Regions from separate parts of the Homo sapiens genome. Here regions 1 and 2 are each linked to region 3. Evidence: fine-mapped expression QTL. A gene starts in region 3. Each other region holds a variant in brackets. All regions are shown on one strand. Distances are from middle to middle. Region 1 overlaps CEP68 (centrosomal protein 68). Region 2 overlaps SLC1A4 (solute carrier family 1 member 4). Region 3 holds the start of CEP68 (centrosomal protein 68).

The links. PIP is the estimated chance that this variant, and not a neighbour inherited with it, causes the effect.
Region 1: its variant is fine-mapped to the expression of CEP68 in blood mononuclear cells (TOPMed, PIP above 0.99).
Region 2: its variant is fine-mapped to the expression of CEP68 in whole blood (TOPMed, PIP above 0.99).

Annotation. Positions count from the first base shown.
Region 1 is chr2:65,077,828-65,080,668 of GRCh38, reverse strand. It overlaps CEP68 (centrosomal protein 68), which reads right to left. Exons shown (of 7, transcript NM_015147.3): 5 at 2,705-2,801. Among named protein-coding and RNA genes, the nearest start is that of CEP68, 23 kb to the right of the region's middle. RefSeq lists an enhancer at 2,760-2,841. The variant G/T (reference allele first, on the strand shown) is at 1,332.
Region 2 is chr2:65,017,368-65,019,867 of GRCh38, reverse strand. It overlaps SLC1A4 (solute carrier family 1 member 4), which reads right to left. Exons shown (of 8, transcript NM_003038.5): 6 at 1,603-1,797; 7 at 1,189-1,323. Among named protein-coding and RNA genes, the nearest start is that of LINC02576, 12 kb to the left of the region's middle. The variant A/G (reference allele first, on the strand shown) is at 1,240.
Region 3 is chr2:65,054,720-65,057,374 of GRCh38, reverse strand. It overlaps CEP68 (centrosomal protein 68), which reads right to left and starts at 959. Exons shown (of 7, transcript NM_015147.3): 1 at 847-959. RefSeq lists silencers at 497-836, 917-1,026 and an enhancer at 1,127-1,366.

The DNA of each region.
Region 1 (2,841 bases), 23 kb before region 3:
TTTTTTTACTTTTAGTAGAGATGGGGTTTCGCCATGTTGGCCAGGCTGGTCTTGAACTCCTGCCCTCAGGTGATCTGCCCGCTTGGCCTCCCAAAGTGTTGAGATTACAGGCGTGAGCCACTGCGCACGGACGCTTTTGAACTTTTATTTAGACTGTCAGAATGTTTGGTTGGGGCCAAATAAAAGAAGTTGGGAAGGACTGGAACAAAACATGTTTGTAGGCTGGCTCTATGGACTTTTGACAGCATGCTCCTGGCGGAAGAAAAGTTAAGTTTTGCACCCGCTGGAGACAGACACTGACGTCTCAAGGGGGAAACAGCCACATTCCTGATTATTTCAAGCAGATGGATGGGGAAGGGCTGTGTGTCAATCTGAAAGAGCCTGGATACATATCTGAAAACCAAAGAAAACCCCAAAGCCAGTAAAAAACCTCTTGAGAGAGCAAAGTGGGACTAAGCACAGAAAAGTATTATTAAATTGATTTTAAAATGAAGGTCAAAAAACCTGAAGCTTTTAAGAGGCCTTTTTTTTTTTTGAGAAGGAATTTCGCTCTTGTTGCCCAGGCTGGAGTGCAATGGCGCAATCTCAGCTCGCTGCAACTTCCACCTCCTGGGTTCAAGCGATTCACCTGCCTCAGCCTCCAGAGTGGCTGGGATTACAGGTGCTCCCCACCACGCCCAGCTAATTTTGTATTTTTAGTAGAGACGGGGTTTCTCCATGTTGGTCAGGCTGGTCTCAAACTCCCGATCTCAGGTGATCTGCCCACCTTGGCCTCCCAAAGTGCTGGGATTACAGGCGTGAACCACCGTGTCCGGACTAGAGGCCTACTTTTACACATGGCCTCTGTGAAGAGAGGAGCCGCTCAGGCCTCTGCACCTCCAGACACTGGGAAGCTGCGGAAAGCCAGTGCCCAGGGGCTCTGCCAGGCTGCCACTTCTCCTGTGGCCTGTGGCAAATCCACAACTATCCATCTCACAGGGCTGTGATTAAATGGAGAACACTGATGTGCCAACTGCTTCAGTAAAATGCTGGTGTAAATTACATGCAGCAAAGGAGCTTGGCACATGGAATTTCTGCCCCAATAAAAAATCTAAGAACCCTAGTGAAAATGCCAGAAGAGCCAAAACAAAGGCCTTAAAAGGGCAGGGGATTGCAAAGAGCTCATATAATTCACACTAGAGAATCACTTACCTGCTGAAAACTATTCAGTGGTCCCTGTCCACTGATGCCTCTCAACCCTAGAGATTTTTCTTCCCAGGGTACACTTAGCAATGTGTAGAAACATTTTGGGTTGTCACAACTGTGGGGGAAGCAGGGATTTACTGGGGCCA[G/T]GGGTGCTGCTAAACATCCTGCAATGCATAGGACAATTCCCCACAAAATCATGCGGCCAATATGGCAAAAGCGCCAAGGCTGAGAAATCCTGCTGTACACCCTTCACGGTATGCACCTGCCCACCATGCTGGTCAGGAAAGTGCCTCCTCATTGCCTCTCAAGCCCGTGGGACCTGCCCAGCTTTGCTTCGGCGGTTGTATTCCAGTATAAATCCCATCTCACTCAAAAATGTAAAATGAGGCATAATATAGGCAGGCTGTCAGCACTTGATTTACAGTCTTGCAGGAAATTAGGGGCTGCCATCAGTTCAAGGCTTTACCCTACCATTCTCTTAGCTCATCCTCCCTATCATATCCTCATCCCCCATGCCCTCGTCCTGTAAAGACAATGAAAACTGTAAATCCTTGGCACCCAGCATGCTTAGATACATGCCTGAGGTCTGTGATTTTCACTTTCCTAAATGGGGAACCCATCCTACAAAATGGGCTCAAGTGGCTGGGTGCAGTGGCTCACGCCTGTAATCCCAGCACTCTGGGAGGCTGAGGCAGGCGAATCACCTGAGATAGGGAGTTCAAGACAGGCCTGACCAACATGGAGAAACCTCATCTGTACTAAAAACACAAAAAAAATAGCCGGGCATGGTGGCGCATGCCTGTAATCCCAGCTACTCAGGAGGCTGAGGCAGAAGAATCACTTGAACCTGGGAGGCAGGTGAACTTGCGGTGAGCCAAGATGGCACCACTGCACTCCAGCCTTGGCAACAAGAGCGAAACTCCATCTCAAAAGCAAAACAAAACAAAAAGGGGCTTGAGCTTGGTTTGCACACTACTGCCACCCTGTCCCCTCTCATCAGTTCTTCATTCAATCTGTTCCCTGAGGACAGACTGACTGTCCTCAGATACTTTTGAGCAATACAATCCTTTTCTGAAACAACTATTTCCCCAAAGCAGGACACAAGGCAGATAATCAGAGAGGAATTCAACCTGGGCTAGGTAAGGTGGGGAACCAAAGGGATACCCACTAAATACCCTAGCCACAAACTAAGGATGGTGGATTAATACTAGGATTCCTACCCAGACTACCACCAGAAAAATACAAAAGCAGAAGCAAAAGACAGCGTCATTCTTGCAGGCTCAATGCCTAATTTGTAATGGGCTTGGTTTTATAACCATGACTGCCTCTAAGCAGGTGTGTAGGGGCAGTGATGGGCAGCGACGCGTGGAGCTGGCAGATGGGGCATGGGGCATCTCGGGCAGTGGGTGTGGGCAGGGGCTCTTGTGGTACCAGCTCCTTACCAGGGATAGTGCGGTCCCTGGGCCTGCTGCTGACAGGGATTAAGCTCTGGCTAAATCCAAAACCTTAAGCATCTCACCTGGGGTGTTCTCCAACAGGCACTGAAGAAGAATCTCCCCCTTCTGTAAGACACTCTCCGTCAGAGACTGATGTTCATCTATATCTTTCTTAAATTGCTTAAGGCGTATCAGAAAAAGAAAAGGCAGAAGCTTCGTT
Region 2 (2,500 bases), 37 kb after region 3:
TCCACTGGGCAGCCGGCTTGGTGCCCTGTTTCCCTGTTCCTGGCCAAGCACCTCTTTGATGCCTCTTCTCCACGCACAGGAGGTGGCTGGGTGAGGAAGGAGAGGGGGCCTCTGTCAGCTCTGGTCCTGTCCAGCTGGCCAGCTCAGGGACGGAGTTCCCTCTGATGAGGTGTCTGCGCAATGCAGGTCTCTTTTGCAGATTTTACCCTCATTGCTCTGAGAAGCCCCTTCAAGTTGGAAAAACCACCATTCCCACCTGCAGCAGGCCAGTCCGTGAGCCCAGTGCCAGGCCCTGCCTGTGACGAACCTGGTCTGGAGTGTCTTTCTTTGCTGACATGAATTGAATGTTTTACCACGTGCTCATTATTCTGTGTGCTGTTCCCGTGCTAACTCGCTCAATCTTCCCCACAACCCTGGTGTGGGTGCTATGATCATTCCCATTTTACAGATGAGCAGACCAAAGCACACACAGTGCACATTACACAACTACTAGATGGCAAATCTGGGATTTCAATCCAGGCACCTGGGCTCCAGGGCTCATTTTCTTACCCACAGGCTCTACTGTCTCAACTTTAGTACCTCAGGCAGCCTTCCCTATAAAATAGATATTATTCATGCCTGCAAAAGGTATCATGTGACTCAAGGAATCCATGCACAGAAACTGTTTTGTGTCTTCACAGCAGCCCCAGAGATGTGGTCTGGATCACACCTTCTTCCCTACCTCCTCCTCTGCTGAGCCCAAGCCCAAGTCACTCACATCAGCATGGTTCATCCTCCCTCCCCTCACAGAAATCACTCCTTAGAATCTTCCAGGCCAGGGACAATCATTCCCAAAGGATCACTGCTCCATCGACTTATTACTCCTATGCAGTCAGCAACTCCATAGACCCTCGTGTCCCTTGGGCCTGCGCTGAGGGCCTCAGCTGTGGACCCCTGCTTTACTGGATGCTATAAGCAAGTTCTTGGTAATGACATCTCATGGTCATTCCTGGATGTTTGGGGGCATGTGACTCTCATATTGTTTAATTTTTCCTAGCTCTAAATCTTGCCCTTTTAGCTCCACTGTAGCCTCCTTCACAAGGCTGGAGTGTGTCTGAAGTTTCTCTGCATGGCCCAGGCCCAGCAGTGCTAAGCTCCTAGGGAACTCAGTGCAGACTCTTTTTGGTGTTCTCAGGACTTGTTACTTACACAATCCAGTCCACAGCCAGGATCAGAGGCAGGTCATGAGTAGGCAGCCCA[A/G]TGGCCTCCAGGATAATGGCAATGGTGAGGACCCCTCCAGCTGGCACGCCTGCTGCTCCAACACTGGACGCTGTGGCAGTCACTCTAAGGGATGGCAGAGCAGGGCCAGCCATTAACATAGAGCGTGGAGTGGACACAGAGAAATGCAGACCATGCAGCTGCAATGTGGCTGGAAACTAAAAACCGCCCCACCATAGGCTCTGCTGGCTACGCCCTTGAGAGTCAACACACGCTCTTCAAGTAATGAATCCCCACTGTCCTCATTTTATGAGCGAGACACCAAGTTGTGGTGAGATTGGTTTTTCAAAGGAAATCACAAGAAAAGCCTTCAGTTTTGAGCCAGGGAAAGAATGAGGAACTTACAGAATGGTGAAAATCTGTCCTGCGTTGAGCTCTACGTTGTTGAGTTGCGCAATGAACACCGCGGCCACACACTGGAAGATGGCTGCTCCGTCCATGTTCACGGTGGCCCCGATGGGGAGAATAAACCTGCTGATCCTCTTGTCCACACCATTGTTCTCTTCAATGCACTTCATCATAGAGGGAAGGGTCGCTGAGCTAGAAATGGGAAAAACAAACCGCCAGACATGACAACAGTCCGAGGCAGGCTAACATGTGTCTTGTCTCAGACCCCAGAACAGAGCAATTAGCACCATCTTCGTTTCTGGCTTTCTTCTCTTGAAATAAGGGAAAAAACAGAATCACTTTAAAACTTCTGTCACAACATGAGGCTTTGGCAACTCCCAAGATACTTAAAATATGACTGCCTTCATTTACCTATTCTGTCATTTACTTGGATTCACGTGTTCCAAGTTTCTTAAGAACTGCACATTGCCTCCCGGTGCAAAACGTTCCCGAGAGAACAAACAACTAGTTTCTCTACATGTGCATCTCCTCTCTTGAGTGTTCCCCTCCCAAAAGTAAATGGTAAACTATGATTTTTTTTTCTTTTAGGCCAAAACCCAGAAATGGCTCTGTGAGCTTGGAAGAATAACTAAGTAGATAACCATAAGAACAGTACCTGCTCCCTCTAGCTGGCTCTGCGGGCTCTGCAGAGGTTAGTTGGTGCAGCTGAGAAACAGGTTTTTGTCTAGGCCAGAGGAACTTCCTTCCCTAATTTTTTTTTTTTTTTTACTCCCACCTCTGTGTTATATAAATAGCCATCCAGATTGGGAGGAAGTGAGCAGTAGAGGCAAAACTAAATGTGTGAATGAAACGACGTGCTGCCGTCCTTTGAAAGTTTTAACATATTTGGAAAACC
Region 3 (2,655 bases):
ATCTTTCAACTAAACCCAAGGCAAACTGACCCAACAACCTTTGTTACACACTTTAACACAACACTCTTCATACCCTAGATCTGAGAACTGTTAGATTATTTACAAACGCTACCTCCCTTCGTGGTCCTGATGAATTCCCAGTGAGGTCCAATCTGCCCTGGCAGGCTTCCGCTCATTTTTGTTACAAACAATACACTAAACCCAACCTACTAATCATCAAGGGCCTGGAACAGGTTTTGGACATTCGTCCCCAGGCTGCTGAGAACTGTTCTAGTGATGACAGTTAGAAAGGGTAGCCCTCCGAGGCAAAAAAAATGAGACATCTTGATTTTTTCTCTCCGCATCTGGGCGCGGCGATAAGAAGACATCACTGGTCTCCATCTTTCCAGGGGGAAAGGCCCGAGCTGCATTAGCCCCGACTGGGGAGCTGGGTAAACAGCCCACGCCCGGGAGAGGCCTGAGGGAAAGTGACCTCCCCCGGGGCCCAGGCCGACCAGCGGCGCAGCTGCTCGGCCGCCAGATGCGCGGACTCGCGCACTCCCTCGCCGCGCCCGGGCATTCCCAAGCCCAGCCGCCCGCCTCGGCCCCGACCCCTCGGCCGCCACAGCACACGCCGTTCCGCTCGCAAGATGGAGGCGAAGGCACGAGGCGCCCCCGCCCCCCAGGGAGCCTTTGTGCCCTTGCCGGCGGGGACGCGAGGCCAGACGGCCCGCACCGCAAGGGCCCCGCAGGCACCGAAGAGACGCGGGGGAGGGGGCCGGGCGCGCGCGCGGATCTAGCCCGGGCCACCGCCCCCAGCGCCGCGGCACCCCCGACACCAGCACCCGCACGCGGGACACTGCCTACCTACCGCACCGCGAACGCTTCGCACGTCCGGAGCGGTCTCAGCAGCCCCATGCGCTGGCCCCGAGCTGGCGGACCCTGACTGCAACTGCGGCCCTCCAACCGCAGCCCAAAACGCGCAGGGCAGGACCGAGCGCCAACCACGCCCTTCGGCCGCGCTGACCACGCCCTTCTTCCCGCCCCTTCTCCCTCCGCGGGAGGGCTTTCGGCAATTTCGCGCAGCGAATCGCAGCTCTAAGTCCGCGGCTCCACCAATACGTGGACGCTCCTGCAAGATGAGCCCGCCCCCTACTTCGTCCTGGCCTATGGGAAGCCGGGACTTCTTCAGCGGCTGTCCTCCCTCGCTTTTGGAGCTCCGACCTCAGCTTCGCCTGCGAGCTGGGTTGTGTAAAGGCTGGTCATTTTGGGGCGCTTAGGGGTGGGTGCCGGGGGGCGCGCTTTCCCTCGTGAAGGTCGCTCCAGGAGTCATGCGTACATTCGTTCATTTTGCTCTGGACGCACTGATGTTCCCGGCTCGCCGCCGTGCCGCAGTCACGAGGCTCTCCGAACGCCTTTCACTGTGTTTCTGTTTACATTCGCGTCTGCAAGACCCGGCGGCGCGACCGAGGCCCGAACAGGTGCTGCGAGGCGGGGCGGGGAGCCAGTGCTGAGGGGAGCTCCCCAGGCCGGGTGGTTGAAGACAGCTTCTGGGGGGAGGTGGAGCTCTGGCTCGTGGAGAATGGGAAGGGTGTGGAAAATGAACTGGTAGCTACTTAGCCACTCTGAGCAGCCTGCTCTGATGGGAAATCGGTGATGGAGTCGGAGGGAAGTGGGAGGCAGCTTGTGGGAGGCCAGGGTGCTCACTCTCTCCCCTGCCAGCATGGGACCTAGTAACTTTCATACATCTCTATCTATCTATCTATTTTGCAAAGATGGGGTCTTGCTGTGTTGCCCAGGCTGGGCTTGAACTCCTGGACTCAGACGATCCTCCCGCCTCGGCCTCCCAAAGTGCTGGAATTACAGGTGTGAGCCACTGCATCCCATCCCCTAGGAGCTTAATGACACTGCCCTTTAGCTTTTACTGCTTAGCAGAATCCGGAGGCATAGAGGAACTACCACCAGGGTGGCGTGGGGAAGAGGCCCTCCCTTCTGATGATTTTCTCTCAGCAGCACTTTCAGCAATCTGGCTTCAACTGAATATCTCCCCAGTTCATAAAACAGGCGTCTGTAAATGTCAACCCCAGCTGGGTGCAGGGTACAAATTTTTTCCTACAGAGCTCTTGAGTCCCAGGTAGTTTAGGAGACAAGGACTTGTTTGGTTTTCCCAGACCTGTCAGGACAGCTCAGAGGTTTTGTCTAACCCAGGGGCCACAAACTTTGGACAACAGCAGCAGCTAGCCCACAGATGGTTTTATTTGGGCATCGCATAGCTTTTCTTTGTTTGTTTGCTTTTGTTTTTTAATAAGAATTTGAATCCCACCACCACCACTGGTCCATTAAGTAACAGCCAGCCTTCACACATTTGCTGCCTACCTGAAGGCATTTGTGTTTGTGACCCTTGATCTTTTCTATACACAGAAGACCTCCAGTGGAGTCACCTAATCCCACAGCCAAGTCACCCCTGCTGGACAGAGAACTGTACAAAGTCCAAACAGGCGTACATATCCTGTATGGTTTCCTCATCTATAAAGAGAGGGGATAGGATGAAGGAGTCCCAAGGTTCCTTTTGGTTCTGATGTTCTGTAATTTTGTGTTGTGAGCAGCTTTTGTTTTTGCCTGACGGGAAAACTTTCCTTTGGGAATTGTCTGCAGTCCGCTGGGTCAGATGGTTCT